Regions from separate parts of the Homo sapiens genome. Here regions 1, 3 and 4 are each reported to be linked to region 2. The links are microRNA targets in miRTarBase. Many come from high-throughput screens and were not tested one by one. Region 2 holds a microRNA gene; each other region holds the end of a gene's coding sequence.

Region 1 (7,124 bases), not on the chromosome of region 2:
TGCCAAGAGTCATTTAATGTCGCTCTACAGTGCATGTTCATCTGAGGTGCCACATGGGCCAGTTGATCAGAAGTTTCAATCCATAGTAATTGGCTGTGCTCTTGAAGATCAGAAGAAAATTAAGAGAAGATTAGAGACTCTGCTTAGAAATATTGAAAACTCTGACAAGGCCATCAAGCTATTAGAGCATTCTAAAGGAGCTGGTTCCAAAACTCTGCAACAAAATGCTGAAAGCAGATTCAATTAGTCTTCAAACCTAAGAGCATTTACACAATACACAAGGTGTAAAAATGATAAAATACTATTTTAATTGATAACTAGTTCTTTGTTAGGTATAACCACTTAGTTGACACTGATAGTTGTTTCAGATGAGGAAAATATTCCATCAAGTATCTTCAGTTTTGTGAATAACAAAACTAGCAATATTTTAATTATCTATCTAGAGATTTTTTAGATTGAATTCTTGTCTTGTACTAGGATCTAGCATATTTCACTATTCTGTGGATGAATACATAGTTTGTGGGGAAAACAAACGTTCAGCTAGGGGCAAAAAGCATGACTGCTTTTTCCTGTCTGGCATGGAATCACGCAGTCACCTTGGGCATTTAGTTTACTAGAAATTCTTTACCTTAAGCAGCACACACATTTACTACACACACAGTGTTAACAAAGCACTGTGCTTAGAGGGTAAAAAGGAATCACAAAACAAGAATCTTTCCAAAGTTGTCTCATTCAGCAATGTTAAGGCATCTGTATCAAATTATTTTGGATGTAAAGATTCCTGTGTCTCATAATATGAATGTATTTTTTGATATACAAGAAACTGACATAAAATGTGAGAAAACCACCTATAATTTACCACTGTGAACAATTATATATCTATCTGCTTCATCTTTTCTCAAATGCATCAATTCTCTAAAATTCCTATATTGTAACTTGCCTTTTTTTAAAAAAGTTAGATGCTGATATAAAGTCTGCTTAATTGTCAACTTAATGAGCTCTATTTTGTGTAGTTATATCTTTATCCATTCCTCTTTTATGGACATTTAGGTTGTTTCCAACTTGTTGCTATTACTGCAACATATTTTTGTACACAGGACTTTTTCCTTCTTTCATTTTTGTTTTTCTCTGTATAAAGGCCCAGCAGTGAATTATATTGGGTCAAAGGATATAGACGTTTTCATGGCCTCACACATATTAAACTTTTTTTGTATAAAGGTTACAGCAATTTATACTTTTTTCAGTAATTAAAATATAGCTATTTCACTGAAATATTTCCAGCACTGAGCATTAATACCTAGTTTGCATTTTGTTTACTAAAAAGGTTGACCAGTGTGTTGATTCTTCTTTTATCTGATAAAGTGTGAAGCAACTAGAGAACACTTATTTGTTCAAAGTAACTAGTCCTATTGATATACAAAAACCACAACAACTTCCCTGGATACTATTTTGAAATGAACACATCAATTTTTATTTGAATGTAGGTATTCTTCACACTGAAAAACCAAATCAAGATCCAAACTGACTTTATGTATGTATATATCTCTCAATGCAAGCAATATCAAACTTCATTTTCTCTACAAAAATGCCAAGTTAGTCTCTTTATAAAAAGCAGTTACAATCTGAAGACATTCATGTTACTTCCTTTGCCAGCTCCAACTCTGCCTTATTTAAATCTTTGCATTTCATGGGAAACATTAATTCTATCTATGGCAGAGCCACTTGGTTTGTTAGCAGACTGATTTGCTGTCATCAGACTGTGAGATGATTTTTTGTGTGCATCATTTTTTTCTTGACCAGCTTTTTGAAAATTAAGAAATGGATAGTCATGTTTTCTTCAGGTTCTCAAGTATTGTCAGCATCCGTAAATCCCTTCCACTCTGGGAAATACTACTGCTCCCTGCTTCCCATGGCTTCCACATCAGTCCAGGACTTTTTCTACACAAATTATTCTGGCTCTGCCTCCTTGACCTTGGTATTCTTAGCATTATTTTTCCCATTTTTTTGCAATGGAGTTTTTAATGGAGGTCATTGATTTCTGATCACAGACTTGAAGAGCTATGATCCACATTTCCAAGCTGCTTGGGGTCCCTGGTTTACAGTGTCTCCAGCATTCTGTACCTAGAGCCACATCTAAAGGGCAGGGAATCTCCAGTGTGGTTTTTTGTTTTTTTGTTTTTTGTTTTGGAGTCTTGCTCTGTCACCCAGGCTGTCTGACAAGTAGAAGACATATCCACTGTAGCAAGGAACACTATGGAGTATATGAGTTAGGGAAAAGAGACTGTGAAGGGAAGAGAACAAACATTTTGTAGACGTTTGGTGTTGAATATATGCTATGGAGGCAGTTTCTATAGTTTCATTTACTTCATGAGGTTTCATTTTTTCTTTTCTGAGATGGAGTCTTGCTCTGTTGCCCAGGCTGGAGTGCAGTGGTGTGATCTCAGCTCACTGCAACCTCCACCTCCCGGGTTCAAGCGATTCTCCTGCCTCAGCCTCCCTAGTAGTTGGGACTACAGGCGCCCACCACCACGCCCGGCTAAATTTTTGTATTTTTAGTAGACATGGGGTTTCACCATATTGGCCAGGCTGGTCTCAAACTCCTGACCTTGTGATCTGCCTGCCTTGGCCTCCCAAAGTACAGGGATTACAGGCATGAGCCACCACGCTTGGCCAATGGGTTGGTTCTTAACATGTATTTTTATTTATAAGAATGGGAGTATAATTTATTTTCAAATGATGATGAATCTCCTGAGTCACATTTTTACCCTCATTTAAACTATTGTCTTTTATATAGACTATAAGTGGATATAGAGTATGTTTTGCTGTATCTCAATTCTCTACCATTCCTAGCATATAATACATAATTTTAGGGTAGCCCTCCTGCCATTCCTTGTTAGCACTACTTTCAATAAAATGAGAGTATTAAATATTGGCAGAGTATCTGAAATATGAAATAATTTTAGGTTGCTTTGATCTTTAAAGAAGTTGCATTATATATTTTACTATTTAGATCCACACTGTTGATACAATCATACATATCACACAAAATTTTAGCTTTGAAATGCATTTATTTTCTGATTATTGGAATTCATCCTTCATGAAATTTTTAGAGTAGTGTTTTAAATTAAGCTCCAGAGTGTAACTGCAACCAAATAGCAATACATACAAGTGGTTTTCCATTCAAATTTACAAAAGCATTATTTATTAGTAATAAAAATATAGAAGGAATTCAGTTTTCCTTTTATCCCCAATTTTTTGCTTTTAAAAGACCATTTACTAACATCCTACTGTAGATATTTCGAGAGACAGATGAAAATAATAATAATAAAGATTATTATAGCCAAATCATCCAGTTAGCCAGGAGTTTGATGACTGGATATTTCAGAGTCTACTGCGGGTTTTAAATATTTTGTTAGCAAATGAATTCATCTGTATGATGAGAGACTTACATGTTTTATAGCTGAAAACCTAAGGAGTGACAATAGTACATGTGACATTCTTAACAGTTAAAAACTGAGTAAGTCCTGTTCATTAGGTAGGTGCCATGTGGAACAAGCTTTCACCTCATCAATGCATTTTGTTTTCAGAGAAACAGACTAATGATAGATTAATGGGAACATTTTATCAGGTTAGCAGTAACTATTTCAAAGGTTTTGAAAAGTATGCTAATAATTAACAATATCTTATATTAAAAGGGTCCAACACTAAGTTGGGACATTAGGTCCTAAGGCCAACTCCCTATTCTAAGGTCTTCAGAAAAGGTCCAGTTTCCTAAAACTCACAGGTCCAAGGAGTACATGTTATTTATTGAGAGTTCCTTCTGAGCACTGCACTGCCAACTTCTAAAGCAACCACCTAGAACTTCACTCCATAATGAGGAAAAAGTTTTCATCCTCTTTTTGGTAGTTTTAGCTTTATTTTGAAAAAGTAACGTGTGCTATCAACTTTGGGCAGATACAAAGGAAATCATTTAACCTGGTTTTATTTAACTATATTGCCTTATATGGGTCATTCTATATACTATTTAATTCATAGACAGAGACTGGAAAAGGAAAAGGAAACCTGAGGAACTCTGAAATATGGCAGTTATTCCACAGCGATATGTCTACGCAAAAGATTAGCCGTAATGTTAAAAAAGTAGATTAGAGCACAAATGCACAATCACCTGGAATCTTGGAAAAGTTTTTCTTTAGTATACATGGTTTCATAAAATTAAAGTTATTTAAGAGAATGAAGGGTCTTGGAAAAAAAATGTCAATTTTTGAAGGCTTTAAGAATTGATTAAATTGAGAAATTAACATGGCTGACTTTCAGGCCTACTTAATTATTTTAAATGACTAATTATGGTTAGGTTTAAAATACAGCAGTGCAAATTAAAAATTCAAATATGTAACAAAGCTCTCTCTTCAGTTCTTATTTAAAAAAAGATAAAACTAGGTACATAAAATTATATTACAGGAACTGTAACTATCCTCAGAGATTACTTTTTTTAAATATAGAAAGGTAACACGCTTTTAGCCACACAGCTAACATGAAAAAGAACTAACTAGAACACATATAACAAGTGATTTTTCTGCCAATAAAGACAAAAGACTATTTGTTGCAAAGTATTATTTTGTGCAAAAATTAAAGAGGAGAGTAGAGAGTAGAAAATTGAAGAGAGTAGAAAAGATGACTCATTAGCAGTATCCACTGTTTGTTAGGAACTGAATTTTGCCCCCAAAACCTATGTCACTATCAGCAATGGGAGTGGTGACAACTGGTGACATAAAAATAAGCATTTTACATTACTGTGAAATAGATAATGCCAGATCATTTCAATATAATGAAAAGCAAAAATTTACTTTTTAATTTTTTTTATTTTTCCATCTAAAATGGCAAAGAGAACATTTACTTTTGATCACTTAACAAGGACACACCCAGGAAATTTGATTTTCTCAACATTAGGAGGATGAGGGGAGTACAGATGGAAAAACAAAAGATAAAACACAAAAGGAGTACATAAAACATTGTTTAGTACAAATAATGAAAAATGACTTCATGACATTTTCCAATAAAAGTTATTTTTACAGATTTTGCAATGCTGTAAAAACCAGGTATATTGAAAGGGGTTATTTATAGGTTAAAAATAAAGCCATTGATGAGTGATAATCAGTTTTAACAGAGTTCACGCAATTATCTTAGCTGGAAAGCTACTGTCCCAAGTGACAAAATTTATGTCCTGACACATGATTACATATTAAATCATTTTGTAAAAGAAATGATTCTGTATGTGGGACTGACAGCTCTTGAGAAAGTGCTATACAAACAAGGTTATAGAAATGTTGAAGTGATTGATAATCTTAAAATACCATACAAAAATGTGTAAACAAAAGGATGGTTTAGAGTTGCAGGGCATTATAAAATATGTAATTTTAGTTAAGACTAATAATAATATTTTTGTGCACTTTAAAAATGGTTAGTGTAATCTTGTAAGTTCAAAGCTGGGTTCTCAGTGAGCAGCAAAAGGTGTTAGATGCATCACCACACTTCACAGGACCTCCTGAATGACTGCAGATGTGCTGTGTACCTTCTTAAGGGGCTTTGGCTGACCTTATGAGAGCAGGAGCTCACCATGCTTATGGGTGACTATATCAAAAAGATCTGCAATAAGGCTCACCTGGGAGATGCTCTAGCATTCAAATTCCTATACTCCTCTTTTATCTACGCTGTCAGATGAAAACTGCTTACTGCTTTTAAAAGATATAATAAACAATATAAATTCTGATAGTAAAGCACTATAAAAATTAGGTATGATATTTTTGGCACAAAGCACTTTTTAAACCCAAGCTCATTTTGCAAAATATATGTCTAGAGTTTATCATTTGAAAATAAAAACATATACACAATATGTAAATGGTTTTATAAGTGAATTAATTAGAATGTACATTTTCTTAAATACTGCACATACCTTCAGCTTACTCCAGTACCAGACATCTGCATGCACACCCCACATTCTACATTACACAGATATTGCACAAGTTTCAATGCCAAAATACTAATGCAGTCTGGCAAGATTTAGGGTTTACCTTTCAGTATTATTTTGTGAAAGTATTCAGATTCAATACTATTTCGCAGAAAAGCTACATGACCAATTTCAGGAAAAGAATGCTTGCTATCTTTCCTTGATCCACAGTATTAAAATCTGTAACAATATATTTAGGCATTTCATTTATGTTTTCCAGCATTTAAAATTCCGCAAAACCTGTGTTTGAAATTTCTTATAGCATTCCTTTACAAACAGGAGAAGCTTCGTCTAATGTAAAAAAAATTAAAGGAGTCCACAGGGCAATAATTTTTCCACCAGAGGTCTCACTCTACATTCTGAAAAGCACTGCAGAGCAATATTTAAGTCTGTCACTTTCAGAGAGCCATTAGGAGCAAAGTCTGCTGAAAACCTTGTAACATACCATGACAGCTGGATGGGTTTCTTAATGCATTGCACAATGTAATTCAATTGTTTTCCTCCCAAAACATCTTAGGGTATGCTACAGCTGCTAAAAGGATTTCTGTTTTTCTTGGTCCTTTGTTTGTTGGGTCTAAGATTGATGACATCTCCACCATTGAGGGTACCTGAATTCTGACCGGAGTGACTTCCACCAGATGTATTAAAGACACCTGTATAAATTGAGGGAAAAGAGTGATTGCCACTGACACGCCTGAGTTACCTGTTGCATCCAGCTTGTTAGTAAAATCAGTAATATTTTCAAGTATTTACAGTTTCTCTAAAATTGTAGTAAAATCCAACAAAATTTAGCATCTTAACCATTTTTAGGCATACGGTTCAGTGGTATTAAATACATTTGTAATGTTGTGGAACAATCACCCCCGTCCATCTCCATAACTCTTTTCATCTTTAAAACTGAAACTCATACCCATTAAACAGTAACTAACTCCCCATTCCCCCTCCCTGCAGACCTTAGCAACCACCATTCTATCTTCTGTCTCTTATGATTTTAACTACTCTACCTTATATAAATGGAATAATAGTGTCTTTTTGGGACTGACTTATTTCATTTAGCATAATGTCTTCAAGGTTCATCCAACGTAGAACACTGAAGCATTTCCTTCCTTTTTAAGGGTGA
Region 2 (7,124 bases):
CTTTGACTGCCTTTAGGTCCTATTTTTCTTAGGAAAGGTGGAAAGAACCAACACAATTTATTGAACAGAGGGGAATCATAGGAGACTCTGTAGAGGTTTTATGTCTGTACTAAGATGATATTGCATTATCAATTTAAAAACATAATTGACACTTTTATCAGAATTGGAAACGTGCAGAAAATTTTCCCTGGTTCATATTAAGAGGTCTCTTAATTATATCTTCTGCTCATTAAGGCAGAGGCGATTCAGCCTGACCCTTCTAACTGTTTCACTTGTATAGAAAAAGGAGGCAAAGGAAATTTTAAGAGGAGTTTGGAACCATTTCAAACAATTTCCTCAATGTTCTGCTTTATTGTATTTCAGTATAATGAAGTACTGTACCCCCAGTACAATGTACTCTACTTCTTCTGTACTTGTACTGAGTAATCAAGTGACTCCTGGGATGATAGGTACTATCAAACGAAAATACTGTATTTAAACATTGCTAAACTGTCAGTTCAACTTTAGACGCTCCCATTCAATGACCAGGAACTTGTGGATCATATAAAGGTAGGTTTATTAAACATGCTAAGCAGGAGAGAGCAGCACCTTGACAGAGACTCTATCGTATCTCAAGTGGGGAAATTTAAGGAAGGCTACGTGTAGAGTTTGGGGGCAGTTGTTAGTTATAGAGTTGTTTTAGGGCAGAAGTTAGTAAGTGAGGCCTAGGCAGATATTGGTAGAATTTGTAAATTAGGCAAGTGGAAGTCTTATCTTTGGAATGTGAGTTCATTAAGACAATATTAAATCAGTTTCTCTGTGCTCTAGAACATATGGTCTGAAAGGAGCTTGTGTTAAACATTTAAAGTTGTTTGTGGCCAGTTGCGGTGGCTCATGCCTATAATCCCAGCACTTTGAGAGGCCAAGGCAGGTGGATCACCTGAGGTCAGGAGTTCGAGACCAGCCTGGCCAACATGGCAAAACCCTGTCTCTACTAAAAATATAAAAAAATGAGCTGGGTGTGGGGGCACATGCCTGTAATCCCAACTGCTCAGAAGGCTGAGGTAGGAGAACTGCTTGAACCCAGGAGGCGGAGGTTGCAGTGAGCCGAGATCACGCCACTACACTCCACCCGGGGAGACAGAGCGAGACTCCTTGTCAAAAAAAAAAAAAATAAAGTTAATTTGTATTGTATGTCATGATTTGACACAATTTACCTGTGTTGTAATTCATAATATAGTTTTGCTGGTTGTAGGTAGTTTTTGTTTTATTTTACAAAATAAACGTGTAAACAGCCTGTATAGCACACATATTTATTTATTTATGGATCTTAAAAAATTTAAACTGCATCCTATTATCTAAAAAATTAATAATTGGTAAATTTTATTCATACTCTTTTCAGACAATATTCAAAATGTTAAGCCTTGCTGGGTGCCTGTGTATCTGTACCTATGTTATATACATTATTCTTTTCCTCTGCTACTATGGTTTATTCACTCTGAGAACACATAATACTAACAGTAAAATGTCTTTGACATTTTATATTGTATTTTGAACAATTTCATGTTCATCCTAAATAAATATTTGTTTCTACCCCACATTGCCTAGAAAGAATTTGTGCTCCCTCAACTACCAGAGCGTTATATGCTCTTTAGTAGTATCACTAATGTTTTGGAAAAGAGTCAAAATTTTCAGTGCTGTTTTAGAATGCTTATTTAAAGGTAAAGAGATTTTTCAGAGAAAGAAACCTTATATAAGAGAACTCTCACAATGATAATGTAGTAACAGGGAACTGCTGAAGGCTACATGGAAATCCTTTATTTAAAACAAAAAATTAGAATAAAAGCCTTTCTACAGCTGGAGAGTCGACGACAGTCTTCCATGGTAAATTTTAATCTGAAGGCTTGTAGAATAAGATAAACCTATCAAAAAGCCCTTCCAAGGGATAGGCAATATTTGCCTTTTTAAAATTAAATCTTACCTGCTTTTACTGAGATTTATTATTCATTAGATAATGGCCATTGTTAGCCATAGTTTTACATTTTAAATTGCCCTTTATGAAACTTACATCAAAAAGATTCTTATTTTCCACTGATCTCTAACAATATAATTTACAATTCAAATTGAGAGAATCTCCTCATACTCCATCCCTTTGCCTTCTGTGGCCTCATTAAATAATCATAGTAATAGCTACCATCTACTCAGTATATTCCTTGTGCATATATTTGGCCAGCATGAGTTCGTGAACTTCTCACAACAACCTTGAGAGCTGTGCAGAGTTATTGCCTCTGTTCTAACACAAGACTAGGCTTCCCTGTGTTAGAATAGGGGCAATAACTCTGCACTGCATTGCAGCCACCCACCCATCTAAGGAGGAAGTCCATGCTCTTTCCATTCTGCCATGCTGCCTTAAGCCAAAGCAATTCATATATAAATGGTTTCATATTTTTTGTTCCCCATGTTTAATTCTAGATACTATGCAACCTAAGTCCTAGACAAAAAATTACAACTCCACAAAAACTTTTTGAATGAAATTTTTATAACTTTTTACTGCTAGTTATTCAAATAAACAATTGTCATAGCTCTCAATATCAGAACTGAAAGAGACAAATAATTTCAACTAATCCTCTGACTTTACTAGGTTCTACTTATGAGGAAGTCAAAATGATAGTACAGTGTGGAAGAATTCATGAACCAATAGACAACTTTCAAAAAATGTATGTCCCACCTAATCAGAATATCTATTTCAAGCCAATTATTTTTCCATTTAAACTCAATCAGAAAATGTATTTTGAGGTGATTGCTTTATCAGATTTCTACATTTTGCAAGCCAAATAATCATATAACCTCTAAGATGATATTATAAGTTCCATCTATCATGACCAGGACATTTGTTTTGCTTTCTAAGACCTAAGCAGACCATATAGCTGCTCTGGTTTCATGTTTGGGGGTATCCTCCTAACCTTTGTATGTCCTTTCTCTCTTTTTTCTCCAGGACTGCCCACCAGAAGCAGGTGATTTCCGAGCTCAGCAATGCTCAGCTCATAATGATGTCAAGCACCATGGCCAGTTTTATGAATGGCTTCCTGTGTCTAATGACCCTGACAACCCATGTTCACTCAAGTGCCAAGCCAAAGGAACAACCCTGGTTGTTGAACTAGCACCTAAGGTCTTAGATGGTACGCGTTGCTATACAGAATCTTTGGATATGTGCATCAGTGGTTTATGCCAAGTAAGTGCTGATTTGTTCTCATTCAACTTGTCCAGAGGGTTTCAATGTCTTTGTGTAAATGGTTTACATAGTCTCACTCTCTGAATCACTCATCTTTACACTTTTTAGAGTTTGTAAATGGTGAAAGATTTGAAAATTAAGGTATGATTTCAGTGAAAAGTACCAAGTGTTGTATTGTGCGAAGGAAAAGTAGACTAGAGTTATTTTTCTTTCCTTGAGTGTCACTTGAATATAAAAGAATAAAAATTTTTGAATAGTGTTTATCAATTATGTACTAGACTTTGAAATTATCCCCTGGATTGGCTATTCCTGAAGTGTGTGTTTGTGTTTGTGTGTGTGTGTGTGTGTGTGTATTTAGAGACTGGATTTTCATTGACTCAGTTTCAGAATAAATCAGGTAAGACCAATTCTAAAATCCCCAAGTAAACTGTAGGAAAACTTGCTACTTTACTATAATTTCCATTGTATTGAAAATTCAGACACACTGTAGAGAAAGTCATGGAAGAGCCAGCTAGGTTGGACTTAAGCCAGTTAAATCTTTAAAACAGGATTACAAAAAGGTTTGATTTCTGGTATCCATCCATTCATCAATGTCTACTCTAGGTAGGGAATTAGTAAGGTGAAAAAGGGTTTGTATGTTTGTCATGTCTTTGCCATCTTTATTTTCAGGTCCACTTTTTGGATTAGGATTACCAGTCTAGTTTTTGGAGCAAGCAGTTGCTATTGTTTTTCTGTGTGCTGTATTTGACTATATGCTTTTATATTTCATGAAGCAGACACAAAATTTTGAGAGTATTTGCCTTTTCCAACATGGTGTCAGCTGAAATTTTCTCTCTTCAGAATGTATAATATCACGGCTAGGAATGTAAGAGAAATATATGTTTTAGTAATTTGTTGTTTCAAATTTATTTTTTTAAAACTTACATCTATATTTGGATGTAAAGGCAAAAACTGTAGTGTAAATGACTATAAGAGATGTGAGATGTCAGGCAAGGTTTTATGCATGCAAGAGGGAAACAAACATAGTCAACCTTCCTAAAGTTTAAAATCATGAGGCAGAGAAACTGATGTCATATAGGAGTTTGTCACTGATGAAACATATCTTAAGGTTTCCTTATATACAAGAGATATATGAATTTCAGGTGTAAATTTGAATGTGGAATTTTACTATTTTAAAGCTAGAAAGGGCCTTAGAGTTATTCAATCAACATTCTAAAAAGCAATATATCTGAATAAATCATTTCTGATCTTTGCTATTTACTTCCTCCTCTAGGACTCTTAGTGGTAATGAAATGGAATTAGGGAATCTGAAAAATCTTTAGGAATAGTAGAGAATTGTAAAGCAAATAGATTTAGAAAGGGGACTGTGTTGTAGGGAATGGCAAACAAAAGAATAATAACTCCCTATGTATGTATACTGTTTGAGTAAAAGCAAGGAAGATTTCCATTTTAGAAGTGAAAAAACTGAGGACCAGAAAATATGCTTGATCTCCTGAAAGCTGTATGTTTGGTCATGCCAGAAATGGGACTAAATTCCACATCTCCTGAGATCCCATTCAATGTTATTGCTACTATATTACCCTGCTGAATGAACCAAAATAAACAAGACAGCTCAGCAAATTAGGTTTCATTTATTTCTTTTGCATGGGAGTTCAACGTGGCATATTTTTTCCTAAACTAATCCTGCCAGCAGGCCTCATGGTACCTTAGCAACTGAAAGAGAATCCTATCTCAGTTGCTAAGGAATAAATTTCATATATAATAAATATGGAGTGATAGTACTGGACTTTGGGTTACAAGTATAAACATGCTTTAACTTATATTCTTATGAGTATGACAGATTTGAGAGCAAATACGGTATAATTTGTAAATTATACCGTATTTGAAAAGCATTGTAACTTATACGTAGAAATAATGACTGGTTATTATTATTATTTTCTTCATTTATTTGTCTTGTTAGAGGCAATCATGTAGTAAAGGCGATGGAAAAACAAAGATTGCATTTAAGCACTAACAAGAAATTTAGTTTGGCTGGAGAGCCAGATAAGACCTAGCTATGCAGTAAGAATAGGGAGGTAGTTTGGGAGAGAAACATGGAGGCTTGAACGGCAGACAGGACTGTGGTAAACCATGGATGACCATAGTCTCACCTTGATAGAAAATGACAGCATAGCTATAGAAATTTGTCATTCATATGCACTAATTTATTTCAAGTATACCTGTTTAATACTCTTCAAAGAGCCACATTCTCAAGACTGGTTCTTTAACTCTTAAATAGAATCACAGAGTCCTGGACTTTTTAGAGCCAGAAGATAGCTTAGCAACTCACAGTTATTGCCGTTTCATAGAAGAGGAAACTGAGACCTGGAGACTGTCCTGAGATCACGAATAATTTGGGTGGCATGTGTTTGTTGTAAATTTCTTCAGGAAAGTTCTAGAATCATTGCTATTTATAATATATACCTAATTCTTACTCAGTAGTAATAGAGCATCATACGAGGTAGTAGTAGTAATGATAATAGCTTCCATTTTTGAGTGACTACCGTATCTAGGTACTTTATTTTTTTTTCAAATATTTACAGTTCTGCATGTTAGACATCATTATCCTTATTTCACAGATGAGGAAACTGGAGGCTCAGGTCGATTTTATATCTTGCCCAGAGACTCCCAGCTCTGTCTGAGTTCAAAACTCCTATTCTTTCCAGCGAGGCCAGGTATACAGAGGCGCAGACCATTTGGTAATGGTCCCCAGATTTGGCTGCCTATCAGAATCACCTGGAGAGCTCTTAAAAGACACAACTCTTAAGACCTGTCTTCCAGAAATTCAGATTTATTAATTCTATGTATTGAAAACACTTTTCTTATGATTCTATCATGGCCAGATTCACTTACAGATTGGAAAGCAGACAGAATTTAAAGTCAAAAGACATGAGTTGGGGCCAGGCACGGTGTCTCATGCCTGTAATCTGGGCATTTTGGTAGGCTGAGGAGGGCGGATCACTCGAGGTCCGGAGTTTGAGACCTGCCTGGCCAACACGGCGAAACCCTGTCTGTACTAAAAATACAAAAATTAGCCAGGCGTGATGGCAGGTGCTCGTATTCGCAGCTATTTGGGAGGCTGAGGCAGGACAATGGCTTAAACCTGGGAGGCAGAGGTTGCAGTGAGCCGAGATTGCACCACTGTACTCCAGCCTGGGTGACAGAGCAAGACTCCATCTCTAAATAAATAAATACAACATGAGTTTGAATCTAGCTCCTCTTTAACGAGCTGTGTAATCTTGGTCAAGATACGCAACGTCCCTAAGCTCCATTTTTCAATCTGTGGAAAATGAATTGTCTCCTAGACCATAGTGTACCAAAGTGAGAAAATATATGTGAAAATGTTTAATAAACTGTAAAGTGCTGTAGAAATGTAGAAGACTCTGAAAATTTTAAGTTGAAAAATATATTAAACTAGTGGTTCCCTGTATAAGATTTTATAACTGTAACGTTTCAAAAAACTTCCCAGGATGTGACAAGTAACAAACTTCTTAATTGGTTAGGTAATGACTTTAAAAAAAACAAAAAGAGACCTTCTACCATGTACTATCCCCATCATCATTTCACAATTGAAACGTTCATCACAAGGAAGTAGTAAGAACCCAGTTTCAGAATAAAGGACAATTCTTTGAACTGGAGATAGTTTGTCTTATGAGAAAGTTACTGCCCTTTACTTTTCTCTTTTTTTTTTTTTTTTCCAGAGCACAGAAATTGTCACTAATAGCACTTCACAGCCCAGCGTTTGAAAGCAGGGCCTTTGAGATGATCTAGTCCAGCCCCAGCAAATCATTGTATGATTTTCCCAGGATCCTATGGCTAGTTAATGACAGACTAGAAGGCAGAGAGTGCTGGTGTTTATCAACATTTTCTAATT
Region 3 (7,124 bases), not on the chromosome of region 2:
GCCTTGACTATGTCCTTCAGCAGCTGGCTTCCAGCCCTCAGCATCCCCTTTTCTGCTGTGTAAAATGAGGGTACTACTGTATACCCTGCCAGCTTCACAGGAGGAGAGATAACATACAAAGATCAGACATTGTAAAAGTGAAAGCTTGTTGAAAATGGCACATTTAAAAGCAGTTTTCTTGCTGGGCGCAGTGGCTCATGCCTGTAATCCCAGCACTTTGGGAGGCGGAGGTGGGCGGATCACCTGAGGTCAGGAGTTCGAGACCAGCCTGGCCAACATGGTAGAACCCCGTCTCTACTAAAAATAGAAAAAAAATAGCTGGGCATGGTGGCGGGTTCCGATAACTCCAGCTACTGAGGAGGCTGAGGCAGGAAAATCGCGTGAACCTGGGAGGGGGAGGTTGCAGTGAGCCAAGATTGCACCGTTGTACTCCAGCCTAGGTGACAAGAGTGAGACTCCCACCTCAAAAAAAAAAAAAAAAAGCAGTTTTCTGTCCAAGTTAAGTCTTTTCCTGTTGTAGTCTAACTGGTCTCAGGATTTCTGAAATCTTAGGTCAGGAAGTGACCCGTTGCTTAAGCCCACCCTTTCTACACTCATACCACAGACACAAGCCTGCCCTCTTCTCTGTGCTTGTAGCCTTCAGGAGAGAAAGCTCTTTGTCTGTGGCCTCCCTCTGAGAGAAGGAATCAGAAAGGGGCCTTAGTAGGAAAATCTAATGAACTCAAATAAGAGCTTCGTACCGTTAGTGGCTGCTGCTGCTTGAAATCCACTTGCATTTATGCTCTTACCATTAGCTTTCCTCTTCACATTCCAGGGTCAAGGCAAAGATAAAGATTTGAATTCTAAGTCAGCCAGTGACCTCTCAGAAGATCTGTTCAAAGTACACGATTTTGATGTGAAGATTGACTTACAAGTTCCCAGCTCAGGTATGTGAGGGTGGGGCGGGTGGTGAGGGCTGAGAACCAGATGGATCCATGGTTTTCTGGGGCAACAAGGAAGCCCACTTTTAGGGAAGAAAGGGGAATGCTGGCTCATCAGCATCCACAGGCCAGGCCAAGACAGGCTGTGGGTATGGTGAGAGGGAACAGGGCCACAGTCAGGAGGCTGCCTGCAGGAGTGTAGCACAGGACTAAGAGGACTTTGTGGGACCTCAGCTGCCAACTTGCTCTTCTTTCCCACAGAGTCAAAGGCTTTAGCCATCACCTCCAAGGCTCCGCCAGCCAAGGATGGGGCTCCAAGGAGATCTCTGAACTTGGAAGACTACAAAAAACGACGAGGGCTTATTTGAGCACACCCAGCCTGCTGCTTCTGACCCTGCATGCCCCATCGCAGCGTCCCACCTTTCCTCCTTTCCTTTGATTTAGCCTCTTTGGGCTGGAGCAGCTGTTGAACTGGGAAGAGACTCTAAACTGCCAGTCATCTGTAATATAAACCATTTGCTGTATAGACCTCCTTTGTCTGCACACCATCTCCCACCAGCCTCCCCTCCCCCAGGGCCCCACCCAGTGTGGGCCTGGGCTCTCTTGGGCTTTATCCATGTCTTTAGATTTGTGTTTGCCTTTTGTTTTTTTAACCGCGCAGTTCATTGGCCACTCTGCACGCATTCAGTATTACCATGGAGCTGGGAATCTTGCTGGAGCCCCTGGGGCAATAGCAGCAGCACCAGGCGGTCTCCTCTACAGACTGCCTTGGCCCACCCATTGAACATTCGGCACGTGACCTTGTGGGGGGAGCGGGGATTGGGCACCTGCGATCCTCTTTCCTCTCTTCATCTTTCTCTTCTGCCCTTCTTTTTGGAAGAAGGGGTTTCAAAACCAGTTTAGTTTCCAAAAAGTGTACATTTGTGGGGGGGGGGGGTCTAATTTGAGAGCGAGAGTGTGTATGTGTGTGTGTGTAAGTGTGTGGATTTTTTTATCATTTTTTTAAAATGCAGTACTCTTTGTATCAGTCTGTCATGGGTCTATAGCTGTTTCAGATTTTTTTCAGCTGTACTTGAGCATCTGAAACTGCAAGAAAGAAACTCATTAAATGTGATTCTTCTTACTAAACAGGCCTGACTGCTGTAGCTGTGTAACTTCCCCATTCCCACCTACTCTTCCCATCCTTTCCCAACTTTGGAGAAAACTCCCCAGTTTAGCCCCCTGACCTGCAGGCTGTGTCCTGGCAGGTGTGGGAGGGAAGCCCATGGCCAGGTACCAGGGAGGGCAGTGAATGTCTTGCTCTTCCCATGGGTACAGCCCACAGCTTCTTGGCTGAACGTAGAACTTCTTTTTCTCACCCAGTATACCAGCCTCTTCCTGGTGATTCTGTTTTGCTGCTTTGGCAAGAACTACATTTTGTTTTTAAGAGAAATTTCTGAATATGAATGTGGAGAGCAAACACAAAAAGATTTAGGTTACGCCGGGTGCAGTAGCTCACGCCTGTAATCCCAGCACTTTGGGAGGCCTAGGCGGGTGGATCACCTGAGGTCAGGAGTTCAAGACCAATCTGACTAACACGGTGAAACCCCATCTCTACTAAAACTACAAAACTTAGCCGGGCATGGTGGTGCGTGCCTGTAATCCCAGCTACTCGGGGGGCTGAGACAGGAGAATCCCTTGAACCTGGGAGGCGGAGGTTGTGGTGAGCCAAGATCGTGCCACTGCACTCCAGTCTGGGTGACAGAGTGAGACTCCGCCTCAAAAAGATTTAGGTTGCAAATGTTTCAAGCATGTGCAGTTTTGTGTGTGTGTATACATATATATGGTCAGCATATATATTGTGCAGCTAGGGCGAAGCCAGCAGAGGTGTGTGTATGTCTTTATGAAATGTTTGAAAAGAGATAAACTGACTGCTTGATAATCACTCTCAGGTGTAAAGCTCCAAGTGTAAATAAAAGTGGCATTTAACAAATCTTTCAGAACAAAGTACAGCTGACTATATATACCAAGAGCTAAGCTAAAGGAACAGCTGAGAGCTCCGATCTCCACGAGAGACTAATCTAAAAGCTCTGCTTTGTACTTCCTCACCCTGCTTTCGTACAAGGAAGGGGGACGATGGGAAATCATGGACTTGTAAGTTGTATTTAAACATAAAAATGAACTTGGTAACTTCTGGGTTTAGTAGAGCCTCAGTGTCGCTTTAACTTAGTTTACTTTTTTTTTATTTTTAAAGCAGCAATGGATGGTTTTAAAGGAGTATTATGATTGTAAAATTGCTAAATATGACTGTAACACAGCTTTGTGGTAGCTGTGACACAGTTCACTTGGGCAAAGGAGTGGTGATGGACTCGTTAAAATCATATATACTTGAATAGTCCATTGACCGAAACTCTTTATAGACTATTGTGTAAATGTGGAATCACAGACTGTTAACATTGCCTGGACTTCAGCAGAGTCCTGGAGCTGCTGGGACCTCTCCTATCATGATGAACTTGGACTTTTTTTTTTGATTTCTGGTTTTAAAAAACATAAAATTATAGAATCCAGATAATTCGCTGGAGTCATTCTGATCCACCATGTAGATCTGTATTTAGTATCATTTGGATTTGGAGAAGTGTTGATTACATTATGGCTGTGTAATAAAATTTTTATTAAAACTGCATCACACTGTAGCCACTTTGCCACCACCTCCCCACATGTAGCCGCTGAAACCCCCACGAGATGCCAATGCACACAGCAGGGAGAAAAGCCAACCAAAGAAGACCGAAGGGTATCTTTCCACCCGAGTAGCCTCTGTAGTGATTGGGACCAAGACTAAGGACTTGTCTCCAATCTCAGCTGAGGCAGTGCCTCTGAACCAAGATCTTGGTCAGGCATTAAGACACTGGCTTTGTCCTACCAACTAGGATTTCTTGGTGGTTCACACTATTTCTTGTGCTGGGGAATTCCCTCATTGGGCCCCTCCTCCCTCCACAGTGTGGTTTCAGTGTTGAAGGGTGCAGCACCCAAGGTTGTTTTTATGCATTTTTTCAGTTCCTTCCAAGAAGCAAAAAGGCCAGTGTCCATCTGCCTAGTTCATAATGTTTATAGGTCTGTTTGTCTGTCTTGCTTCTGGCAGGTGTAGGGAAAGTCTACTGCCTGCCACTCCCTTCAAAAAGAATGTTTTTGCTTTTGTGAAGTCCTGACTTGCCACTCAAACTGTACCAATATTGTAAATAAATGTTATGCCATTTTAACAAAGGGATCAGATTGAGTCTAAGGATTGCATCCTGAGTGGCAACTCCTAAAGCCATGTTTTGAAAGTCCAAGAGAACCTCTCTTGCTCCTTTTCCTTCTTCTCTTAGCCCTGTGCCCACAAAAGTGAAAGTGGCCATCGTCAACTCTTTAGCAGCCTGGTTCCCCGGAAGCCTCTCTGGTAGGGTAGTTGCCTAGACCCAAGGAAACCTCCAGTTGTCCTGGTTTACTTCCTGTCTTGGTAAGAGACCAATAAGTTTTAACAGAGCTAAGTAGACCCCTGATGTACTGCCTAACCCTAGTGAGAATCTGGGCCTTTCAACCTTTTTTTTTTTAGCTGGGGTCTCTGCTGTCTAGGCTGGAGTGCGGTGGTGTAATCACAGCTCACTGCAGCCTCAACCTCCCGGGCTCAAGTGATCCTCCCACCTCACCATTCCAAGTAGCTGGGACTACAGTCATGCACCATCACACCCAGCTAATTTTTAAATTTTCTGTTGAGACGGAATATTGCTATGTTGCCCAGGCTGGTCTTGAACTCCTGGCCTCGAGTGATCCTCCCGCCTCAGCCTCCCAAAATGCTGGGATTGCAGGCATGAGCCACTGTGCTCAGCTCCTTTCAACTTTAAATTGGCCTAGGCACAGTTTCTTTGCTCTTCTTTTTTCTGGCTATCATGAGTTTGAAGGGGGTGCCCAAGGGCCATGAGTGTGGCTATGGAGGAAACACTGATCTTCCTTCATCCACGCACCCCTCATGCTGGGGAGGTCTATAGGCCTCCCCATCCCCAGTGCCTGAGGCTGTGTCTCCAACCTTTCTGAACACATTTTAGCTAGGAAGCAAGAAGATCCTGGATCTTCCACACCCTTTAAGAAGGCAAGGGATGGCAATCACAGTGATAAGAGCCACGTCCAAGACCGCTTCTGGTGGTGGAGAGGTTGCTTACCTGCAAGTGCGTCCAATGAGGTTTTCTCCAACTCCCCAGCACTCCCACTACCTAACTGGTGGGAGCAGTGGGACCTAGAGAGCAGGGGTTCTGGGCAGATGACAACATAGCTTGCTTATCTTCCAGGATTTGGGTGCTGTGGGGCAGCCACTTGCTACCTATCTCTGAGAATCCAGAAAGAACACCTGGGGTGCAAGTGGAGAGAAGAAGGGTGCTGGGTTGGTCAACTTCATCTCCCTGGCCACGTTTTTCCAGAAGGGAGATCTTCCTTCAGTAACTATAATGTGGCTGTGATCCAGCAGCCTTAGGAAGCCATCAACTCCCAGCTCAAATTTTTTTCACGATTTCCCTGACTTAAGCGGAGACTGCTGAGCTCCCTTGGCAAGGAGGGTGTTAAGGAGCTGAAGGGAATGGCAGTGCTAAGACAGGGCCAAAAGGCATGCCTTCTCTAAGGTTCCACAGGCCAGCCCCAGGGAACATGGAGATACGGCTTTTAGGCACTGGAGCATAGATAGGCATGTCTAGGGCTTCCAGACCATGCTCAGGATACAAGGGAGGGCCAAGAGCCAAAAGGCACCCAGGCTCGGGAAAGGGTTCAGATCCCCGCTCTGCCACTTGCTATTACCTAGGGCTGAGCTACTTAACACCTTTGAGCCACAAGTTTTCCACCTTTCAAAAAACAACCTGTCCCCAGTAGGGGTCCAATAAATGCTGTTGTTAATGAGAGTGAAGCCGCTGGACCCTGGAGGAGAGGAACGGCCCTTGGAGTGGGCTGATGGAGGGCGGAAGCACTGGGCAGTGGGCAGGACCAGAAACTCCACTTGGGCTGGGGTTGGGAGGGGGGGAAGAAACCCTGACTCCAGATGGAGGCTCCCACTGGGAGACCCTGGGCTGGCCTAGGGATGCGTCCAGAGAAAGTGTGCTGCCTCTGGGCCAGGCCCTCGTTGCTGTCATTCCCCACAGGCCAACGCACACCACCTTTACTGACCAGGCTTCTGAAGGCGTTGAAGGCTTGCCACCTTACCACCCTCCAGCTGGCCCCAACTGAGGCCCGACCTACCCACAACCCCCAAGAGTAGTGAATACTCAAAATAGCACCAATAGTACCAAACCAGAAGGTAAGTGTAAAAGAAGCACAACAAAGCTCTGACCCTTCCCATGATGATTACCTTGATACTTCTTCAAAAGATAGATACTTTTGGGCCCTGCACCATGGCTCCTGCCTGTAATCCCAGCACTTTAAAAGGCCGAGGAGGGAGGATCGCTTGGGGCCAGGAGTTCGAGACCAACCTGGTCAACATAGCGAGACTCCATTTCTTTTTTTCTTTTTCTTTCTTTCTTTTTTTTTTTTTTTGAGGTGGAGCCTCGCTCTGTTGCCCAGGCTGGAGTGCAGTGGCGCAATCTCGGCTCACTGCAACTTCCACCTCTCAAGTCCATGCAATTCTACTGCCTCAGCTTCCCAAGTACCTGGGATTACAGGCATGTGCCACCATTCCTGGCCAATTTTCGTATTTTTAGTAGAGGTGAGGTTTTACCATGTTGGCCAGGCTGGTCTTGAACTCCTGACCTTGTGATCCTCCCGCCTCGGCCTCCCAAAGTGCTGGGATTACAGGCGTGAGCCACCACGCCCGGCCTCTATTTTTTTTTTTAATCGAATACTTTTGATTTCTTTTTCTCTTTTAGCCATGGATAGCCCTGCTTCGCTAAGCGCGTGCGATGCAGCACAGCCCTTCACCTGGCAAGCCCGGAAGCCTCAGGTTGACTCCATCAGTTTTGCCGGGAGAGCCCTTCGGCGCTCCCCGCTTGGTGTCTCCACCACCCCCCGCACCGGCCTGGGCGCCACCCTTGTCCGCGCCAACGGTCCCCGCATCCCTGGCCCCGTGCGCCTCCTGCGCCGTTAGCGCCCAGTCCACGCAGCAAGGGAGGAGGCGCGCGGCCGCTGCGTTCCAGGGCGCTCTGCCCTCGTTCCCCACTCCGGGCCCGCAGCCTCAGAGCCAGGGTCCCAGTGGCCCGGGGCCTGCATGCGTCT
Region 4 (7,124 bases), not on the chromosome of region 2:
ATAATTTTGTTCATGTAACTATGTTTCTGGATTTCATTTGTCACTGATAATTAATGTTTTAACCATCAAAATAGTCCTTCATTTGACAGAATAATTTTCTGTTTATCAGTAAACTTTAACAACAACATAGAATAACTTCATGCAGTCTAGCTTTTGGTTAGCATATGTGTTTGAATTTTACTTTTAAATTCAGTCCTTGTCTTCCAACTTAGTTACTGTCTGGGACAATCATTTTCTGAATCAGTGCACCAATATTAAACTCATGTTTTAGTAATCATTGGGTTCTTTAAAGGAAGAAAAAGCAGAGGTATTTTAAAAATATATTCTAAATACTACCATTGTGTTAATGACTTAAGTTTATATTTCTTTTGGAGACATTAGTGCCTGAAACATTTGGCAAATAGGAATAGTTTTTCATTTGATAGAGATACTTTATAAAAACTTTTTAAATGCCTCCTCTGGTTCTTTTGAGAGTTCCATAATAAATTCTATGTAAAATGTTTAGCATAGTGTTTGATAAATAGGAAGCATTCAATTTAATTATAACAGAGATTAAGTTAACATATTGAAACATATCATTAAATAATATACCAATGACTTGAAAGCTAATGTACCTTCATAATGTAGTTGGTGGTATTCATGTAGTTTCATAATACTTTTGGTATAGTTTTTATTCTTGAAATTGTTTAATTTTTGTCATTTACAGCATCACTGCCGACAGTGTGGAAATATCTTCTGTGCTGAATGTTCAGCCAAAAATGCCTTAACTCCTTCCTCCAAGAAGCCTGTTCGTGTCTGTGATGCATGTTTCAATGACTTGCAAGGATAATGGGTTATCACAACTTCAGAGTAATATTACACTAACATTAGATTTTTAATAAATGTACTTAATAGAGGTCTTGGACTACTATTTGGTTTGGACACTGGTTGCAATACTAGACCAAATAGGAATTAGTATATTTTGGAATGTTATGGATATCAAGTAAAACTCTTCTATTTTTGTGAGACTTGGGCTTATCATCTTTCATTACTTTTTTCCCATTTAGCCCCTGGAATAGCTTTCATGCCAAGTTTAGAATTAGCCAATGAAATGTAAATAAACTTTGGACAGAAAATAGCAATGTATTTTTTTAATATAATTTCATTATTCACAAATGAAGAATGCAATTCCATAGCTTACTTCTTTCTCCTAAATTTAATGTACAAAAATGTACATGGATGATATTATCACTTGTTGCTGTTTTTGTTGCACAATAGCACATTAATTATATTAAATATTCTCTTTGTGAAGTTATGCACAGAACTGTAACACTTTCCTCTGCCTTTTTCTCTTATATGTGGGTTCATGGTTCAGTTGCATTGTTATGTTATGAATTTACTACTTGGGTGTTCTAAATACAGTTTATCTTAAAATATGTAGTAATATGAATTCAAAAATGGTTTTTGTTTTAACAATATTAATTAAATTTTCTTGGGTGGATTTTATAAAAACCTCTGTAAAATCAATTTGTTTACTTATAGTTATCTGGGGTTGTATTGCAAAGAATAGGGTTAATTTTTCTTTTTGTCTTTTTCTGTCTCTTTCTTAAACTCCCACGCATTGTCCATTTAGAATCTTAGAAAGCTTCTTACCCTCGCTGTCAGTTGGAGGATGAATAATAAACATTGTATAATGTTCTTATTCTCGGTTTCTTGTAAGTGGGAAGTCTTTTGAGATCAGCCTTCATATCATACCCTTATTTTGTCTCTCTAGCATCTTCAGGAACCTGAGTTTGCTTTTTACATAGATCTGATTTTTTCCTTTATTTGGTTTAACATTTTCAAGCATAGATCAGCTTCATGTATTTGTTTTATAATTTTGCATCTTAAAGCTAGTAACTAATATTGCTGTGGTCTTATTGGTGAAAACAAAATATAAAATGATAAGAAGACATTAAATATTTTACTTTCTATTTCTTACCCTATTGGGAAGAATTTTTAAAAGTTGTAAAATTGACTTAAAGTTAAAATGGTTCTGAATTTGGTGTTCCATGTCAACTGTTCCCAGTTTTAATTTTAACTTTGCAAAAATAATGTTGTGAAATTCCCTTTAAGTAACTAACACCTAGAAATAGAGTATCACCAAAAACAAATGTATTTAGGAATCCCAGTTACAATAAAAACTGAAACAGCATGGCTAAGCATCTTAAGGATAATTAAGAAATTAGCTTATTTGTATGCTGAACAATGGAATCGAACTTTAATTTAGCATAGTCTTATTAATTTGGAAAATTGTAAAACATCTCAAGAGAGAAGTTATTAATATTGGTTTATTAATCTTTCTAGAGAAGAAGTGTAGTTATACATTCATTCAGTGCAATCATTTTATAACAGTAGTTAATATTTCATTTATAATAGTTCTTAATATACATTTGCTTTCAAATATTCTGAAATGAAATTATATTCATGCTATACCTACAGTGTATGTAAACTAAAGAGATCACTACATATTTGTTTAATTATTTAAAAAAAAATTTAAGTAAACCCTGTTGTCATTAGCTATTAAGAACATTGATTAAGTCCCTGGACTTGGATAAACATATATCCTTGAACATATATAATGAAGAAATACAGTGGCTCTTTATTAAAAATAATAGTTGGATAATATAAACTGAACTATTTATGCATTTTTATATACTTATAAATCCTTCCAAATAGTTTTAATTCTATCCTTTTACATATAAATAACTTAATAAGTGTGCTGGAAAAACACAGATATTCACAGCACCACTGTTTTTTTTTTTTTTTTGAGATAATAAATTCCATGAGAAATCTGGGTTTGAATATTTGTTTACTTTGTCTCCTAATTGAACACCACTCCAGGCCTTCTGTCTGTCTCCCCTTTACCCCCAAAATACTCACAAAAAAATTTTAAGACAACAAGTAACCATATATAGGTGTTTGAATGATTTTCTCATTTTTATCTAATTTCATTTCATAAGTCCCGAGTAATTTACCTACCATAGGCTACTATACTGATAATATAAATGAAACCGAACATTTTTTGCTACTAACTCTCCCCAATTTAATGTGTTTTCGAAATAAAAATTTAAATTTTTTTCCTTTTAATTAAAAAGTCATCTTTGAAGTCCTTATTGGCTGTACATTTTACATGTTTGCTGGTACTATTATTTTGTCAGTCAGTTAAAGCTGGCATGTACAGCTCTTGGCTTTAATGAAAAGCACATTGACATAATGTTAGTAAATTCCAAACCCCGGCACAGAATGTGAGTTAAAATTAAGTCTTGCTGGGTTAGTGTACAATAAACTATACCTACAGACTTTTTTTTAATAGAAAGAAGACAAAGCTGCTGGTATAGGATTTGTTCCTTTGAAGAAAAAATGAGGGAAACAAACACAAAAACCTCAATGCAGTGTATAAATAACATTTTGTTCAACTACCTCTTAATGTGGAATTATCTACTTTAATAGTTTCCTGACAGTAATGTTAAATAGTAACTGCCAAATTTGTTATTTTCCCATCTCTCTTAAAAAAGTCTTTATGATTATTTTATATAGTTTTGAGAACTTTAAAGCCACTTTTTTTTAACCTTACATTTGCATAAAAATGTTTAGCTTTTAAGTAGAGAGCAAATTATGATCATATATTTTGATATTCATGACCTGTTTGACTATAGGAGTTTTTTTAAAAAAATGCACTTTGGCTATAAAACCATGGATGATTTGATCCATAAGATTTAAATGTGCCACCATTATAGTATTCCTAGACATGAGCTTGATGAATGGTATTCTGTAATTATAACGTGCCACACATTATTGTGTCTTAATTGCCCTTAGCCTGAATTTTAATGATCAATTTGTTATTGTTGCAGATGTGAATATTGTGCATAAACTTACTAAATTTATGTAAAATTGTATAAAATAGAATTAGAAGTCACTAAGTTCTTTCTGTGTAGAAGTAATAAATTTATTGTAACACAATGCAGTTGTGTATATGACATTCTGTAATTCCTTGAACTGGATCATATATTCATAAGTTCTGTAGATACTTATGCATGAACATTTTCTCATTTAGTTTTTGGGTTCATTATTTGTATTGTGTTTACTACTTGTGATCATGTAGTTGTGCCTTACTTTGTGAGAAAGGTTAGCTCAGTAAATACTGCAATTTCTAAACTCAGTGATTGGAAGGTTATTAATTATAAATGTAACTGATAAAGTACGTGACAGCATTTAAATCTGTATAAAGAACAATGGAAGGATCCTTATTGAATTGTTGCTTTTTTTTAATATGTTTAAATATTATATTAAAAACATTTCTTTCTAAACTAGTTGTATTCTGTGACTATAAATTGTTTTGTCTAACAAAAGAGAGAACACTGTATTAACCATTTTGCATTAATTTATTTACAGAATATTAGGACTTTGCACTTGGATATAGACAGTGGTGTTTTAATGTTGTTCAATTTCGAATAGTAATTAAATTCCTGATCTCAAGAGAAATTATTAATGCCATTTTGCCTTAGACATTCCATTTAATATTGTAGAGAATTAACAAAACTAAAAACAAATATAAAAAATATGTAATTAACCCCTTATTTCATTGTGTGTCTGCATTTAATACCCAGATGACCATTTAAAGATACTTAAAACATTATTTATTTATTTATTTATTTATTTTTCTCCCTCCCCTCCCCAAAGATACTTTTTGGAAGGCCCAATGTGCCATTGTTTTTTGCTATTTTTTCTTCCTGGGAGCCACGGTTCTAGAATGGTTTTTGTTCTGACCCCCGTGATCCCTTCATTCGAATGTGCTTCATTCTAAACCCTCCAAAGAGTTTAATGTGCATATCCTCAAACATCTAATATATTGTATATTAGACATGTTACTTTGTGAGCTTTATAGAATTCCAGTTTATGTACAGCATATTCTTGAGCTGTTTTATATATTTTGTTAATTTAGTCAGTCTGTCTCTCCCTTTAATGAGATTCAGAGGGAGAAAACTACCTTTATACATGTAAGTCTGTGGTTGCTGGATTCATGGGACTAAAGGAATTTGAGAGGCCACCTCATCCTAGTCCACTGCTCACCTCCGAGGTTAGTTTATATCTAAACATTTGCAAGATGATTGTTAATGTAAAAATTTTTTTTAACCAGAAATTTCTTTATAAAATCTTCTCTTGCATAATCTATATTGTATTCTCCTGGACATAACTGCTTTCAGTCCCATCCAGATGCCATCTCTAGGAATTCACTTGAAGCTTGAAGTCTATTCTCCCCTTTTTCTCCCCTCCACCTCATTTATTCTTAGCTATTAACAATAGTTACTGTCCTCCAGATTTTCCTTTTTTTCTTCTATTAAATTTCTGACATTATTATAAAGAGGTTATTAGTCTCCATTCTAATAGTGCTTGCCTTGTACAAAAGCCTTTCTGCTGCACTTGTCTTTACTGCTTTGTTTGCATAGTGAAATTTCACCTTCCTCAAGGAATTACTGGGCACATGACTTGCCCAAACATTATCCTCTCTACCCCATTCTTCAGCTTAACAAAATCAGCTAAGGCTTCAGTTGTCTTGCAGCCAAATTTGATAAATTTACTACTTTCACTTTGCAAATTGCAAAAGGTACGATTCTGAAATGGAAGTTTGTGGACTTCCCTTTGATGCAATAATCTGACCCTAAGAACTAGTTCCTTGAATGTAGTTAATAGTATATATCCTGCCATGATAATAATTATTCAAACTGCCTTTCATGATAAAAATTCTGAAGAAATTTGAAGTCCTGCCAAATAAAATTAAGTGACTGTACTGTGCTAACACACACACACACACACACACACACCAATCAAAACCAGAAAGTATTTTTATGGCAAACACCATCATTCTTCAAAAAATAAAGTTAAGAGACAGATACCTTACTATGTCTATGAAAATCTGTACACTTCACAACAGGCCAAGAAAAGCCATGCAAAAGTGTTAACTGGTGAAAGCCAGATTTTTTTTTTCTTCCTATCTTAAAGTAATGGAATTTAGTCTTTGGGATTTTCTACTTCCACGTTAGAGTACTATATACCTGAGATGAGTTTGAGAATAGGAATTTTAAAACTGCTACTTAAATGTAGTCCCTATTTATTGCTTTGTATATTAAAAGAACAATCAAGCTTTGTATCTAAAGATTTATCATTATGTTTGAGGTAGGACTATAAAGCGGTTAAGACTGATTGACAGGCCATGAAGGAAAATTGGTTTCATTATTTTATGGATACAGAGTAAGATGCTGGAGTTCATATTGGACATAAGCAGTGGACATTGTTTTCCTTCTGATACTCCATTTATCTGATCATTCACCCTTTACAAATTAGCACCTTTCTTCACTCACACCTCTTACAAACCTGACGGAAGCATTAGAAGGTAATCTGGATGTCAGTATATATTTGTCAAGAAATTCCTCAGAGTTCAAATTTGTTGCAGTCATTATTCCTCTATACTGAGGATTTTCCTAGCTCAAAATTTCAAATTCTGAAACTTCTTTAAAATGCAAATTTCCTTCTAGCTTATCACTAGCTAAGTGTTACAAAACTTTGAATGAAATTATACCTTAAACCATAATCTTCTAAAAAGACATGCCACTTGTTTTAGGTCCCTAAATTTCAGAGGATTCTGCGGGCAATGTGAATAAAGATATTTTCTTGGTTTCCTGACTCTTGGTAAAGCAAGAAATTGCAGTTGTTATTTGTGCCATCCATGTTTTCTGTTGAAAAAAAGAAAAAAATACATAAATAGAGATTAGAATGTTAAGCTGACAATTTCTCACATATTTGGGCTAATATTTTCTGCTATATTTATTGACCAGCTCTTTAAAACTGAAGACTAATGAAACATTTGCATATGTTTCCCATTTTCTTTCTTACATCTAATATAAATACTTCTAATCTTACAGGAAAATGCAGATGGGCTAAATGAGTATGGTATGCATGTTGGATAACAGTTATGAGTAATCAAGAAACAATAGTCAATGATAACTCATTAGAAAAATGAGCACTGAGAATATATGTAGTTTGAAAGTGGCATTGCTGGAATTTCTATTCTCTGTGGAAACAAGTTCTTAACCTGTAGTATAACT

Evidence for each region. The annotated mature microRNA hsa-miR-3152-3p reads UGUGUUAGAAUAGGGGCAAUAA and lies in region 2 at 2,295-2,316, shown strand. An mRNA with a match to its seed (bases 2 to 7 or 8) in the 3' UTR can be bound and repressed. Matches are read on the target gene's strand: a 7mer-m8 pairs with bases 2 to 8, a 7mer-A1 pairs with bases 2 to 7 and ends in A, and an 8mer does both.
Region 1: miRTarBase lists RAB23 as a target of hsa-miR-3152-3p. Seed matches in the 3' UTR shown: 7mer-m8 at 5,509-5,515.
Region 3: miRTarBase lists RTF1 as a target of hsa-miR-3152-3p. Seed matches in the 3' UTR shown: 7mer-m8 at 2,492-2,498 and 7mer-A1 at 3,210-3,216.
Region 4: the mRNA of EEA1 is a reported target of hsa-miR-3152-3p. Seed matches in the 3' UTR shown: 7mer-m8 at 2,098-2,104, 7mer-A1 at 3,974-3,980 and 8mer at 5,815-5,822.

Annotation. Positions count from the first base shown.
Region 1 is chr6:57,183,944-57,191,067 of GRCh38, forward strand. It overlaps RAB23 (RAB23, member RAS oncogene family), which reads right to left. Exons shown (of 7, transcript NM_016277.5): 7 at 3,049-6,657. The coding sequence ends at 6,518. It overlaps BAG2 (BAG cochaperone 2), which reads left to right. Exons shown (of 3, transcript NM_004282.4): 3 at 1-5,890. The coding sequence ends at 247. Among named protein-coding and RNA genes, the nearest start is that of BAG2, 15 kb to the left of the region's middle.
Region 2 is chr9:18,571,056-18,578,179 of GRCh38, forward strand. MIR3152 (microRNA 3152) reads left to right here and starts at 2,251; the gene lies at 2,251-2,324. ADAMTSL1 (ADAMTS like 1) reads left to right here. Exons shown (of 29, transcript NM_001040272.6): 4 at 2,975-3,211.
Region 3 is chr15:41,479,400-41,486,523 of GRCh38, forward strand. RTF1 (RTF1 homolog, Paf1/RNA polymerase II complex component) reads left to right here. Exons shown (of 18, transcript NM_015138.5): 17 at 815-926; 18 at 1,182-4,164. The coding sequence ends at 1,288. It overlaps LOC105370790 (a long non-coding RNA gene), which reads right to left and starts at 6,970. Exons shown (of 3, transcript XR_932169.3): 1 at 6,831-6,970; 2 at 5,096-5,280; 3 at 28-92. RefSeq lists an enhancer at 4,275-4,324.
Region 4 is chr12:92,769,716-92,776,839 of GRCh38, reverse strand. EEA1 (early endosome antigen 1) reads left to right here. Exons shown (of 29, transcript NM_003566.4): 29 at 707-6,203. The coding sequence ends at 829. It overlaps PLEKHG7 (pleckstrin homology and RhoGEF domain containing G7), which reads right to left. Exons shown (of 17, transcript NM_001377329.1): 17 at 4,385-6,752. The coding sequence ends at 6,645. Among named protein-coding and RNA genes, the nearest start is that of PLEKHG7, 70 kb to the right of the region's middle.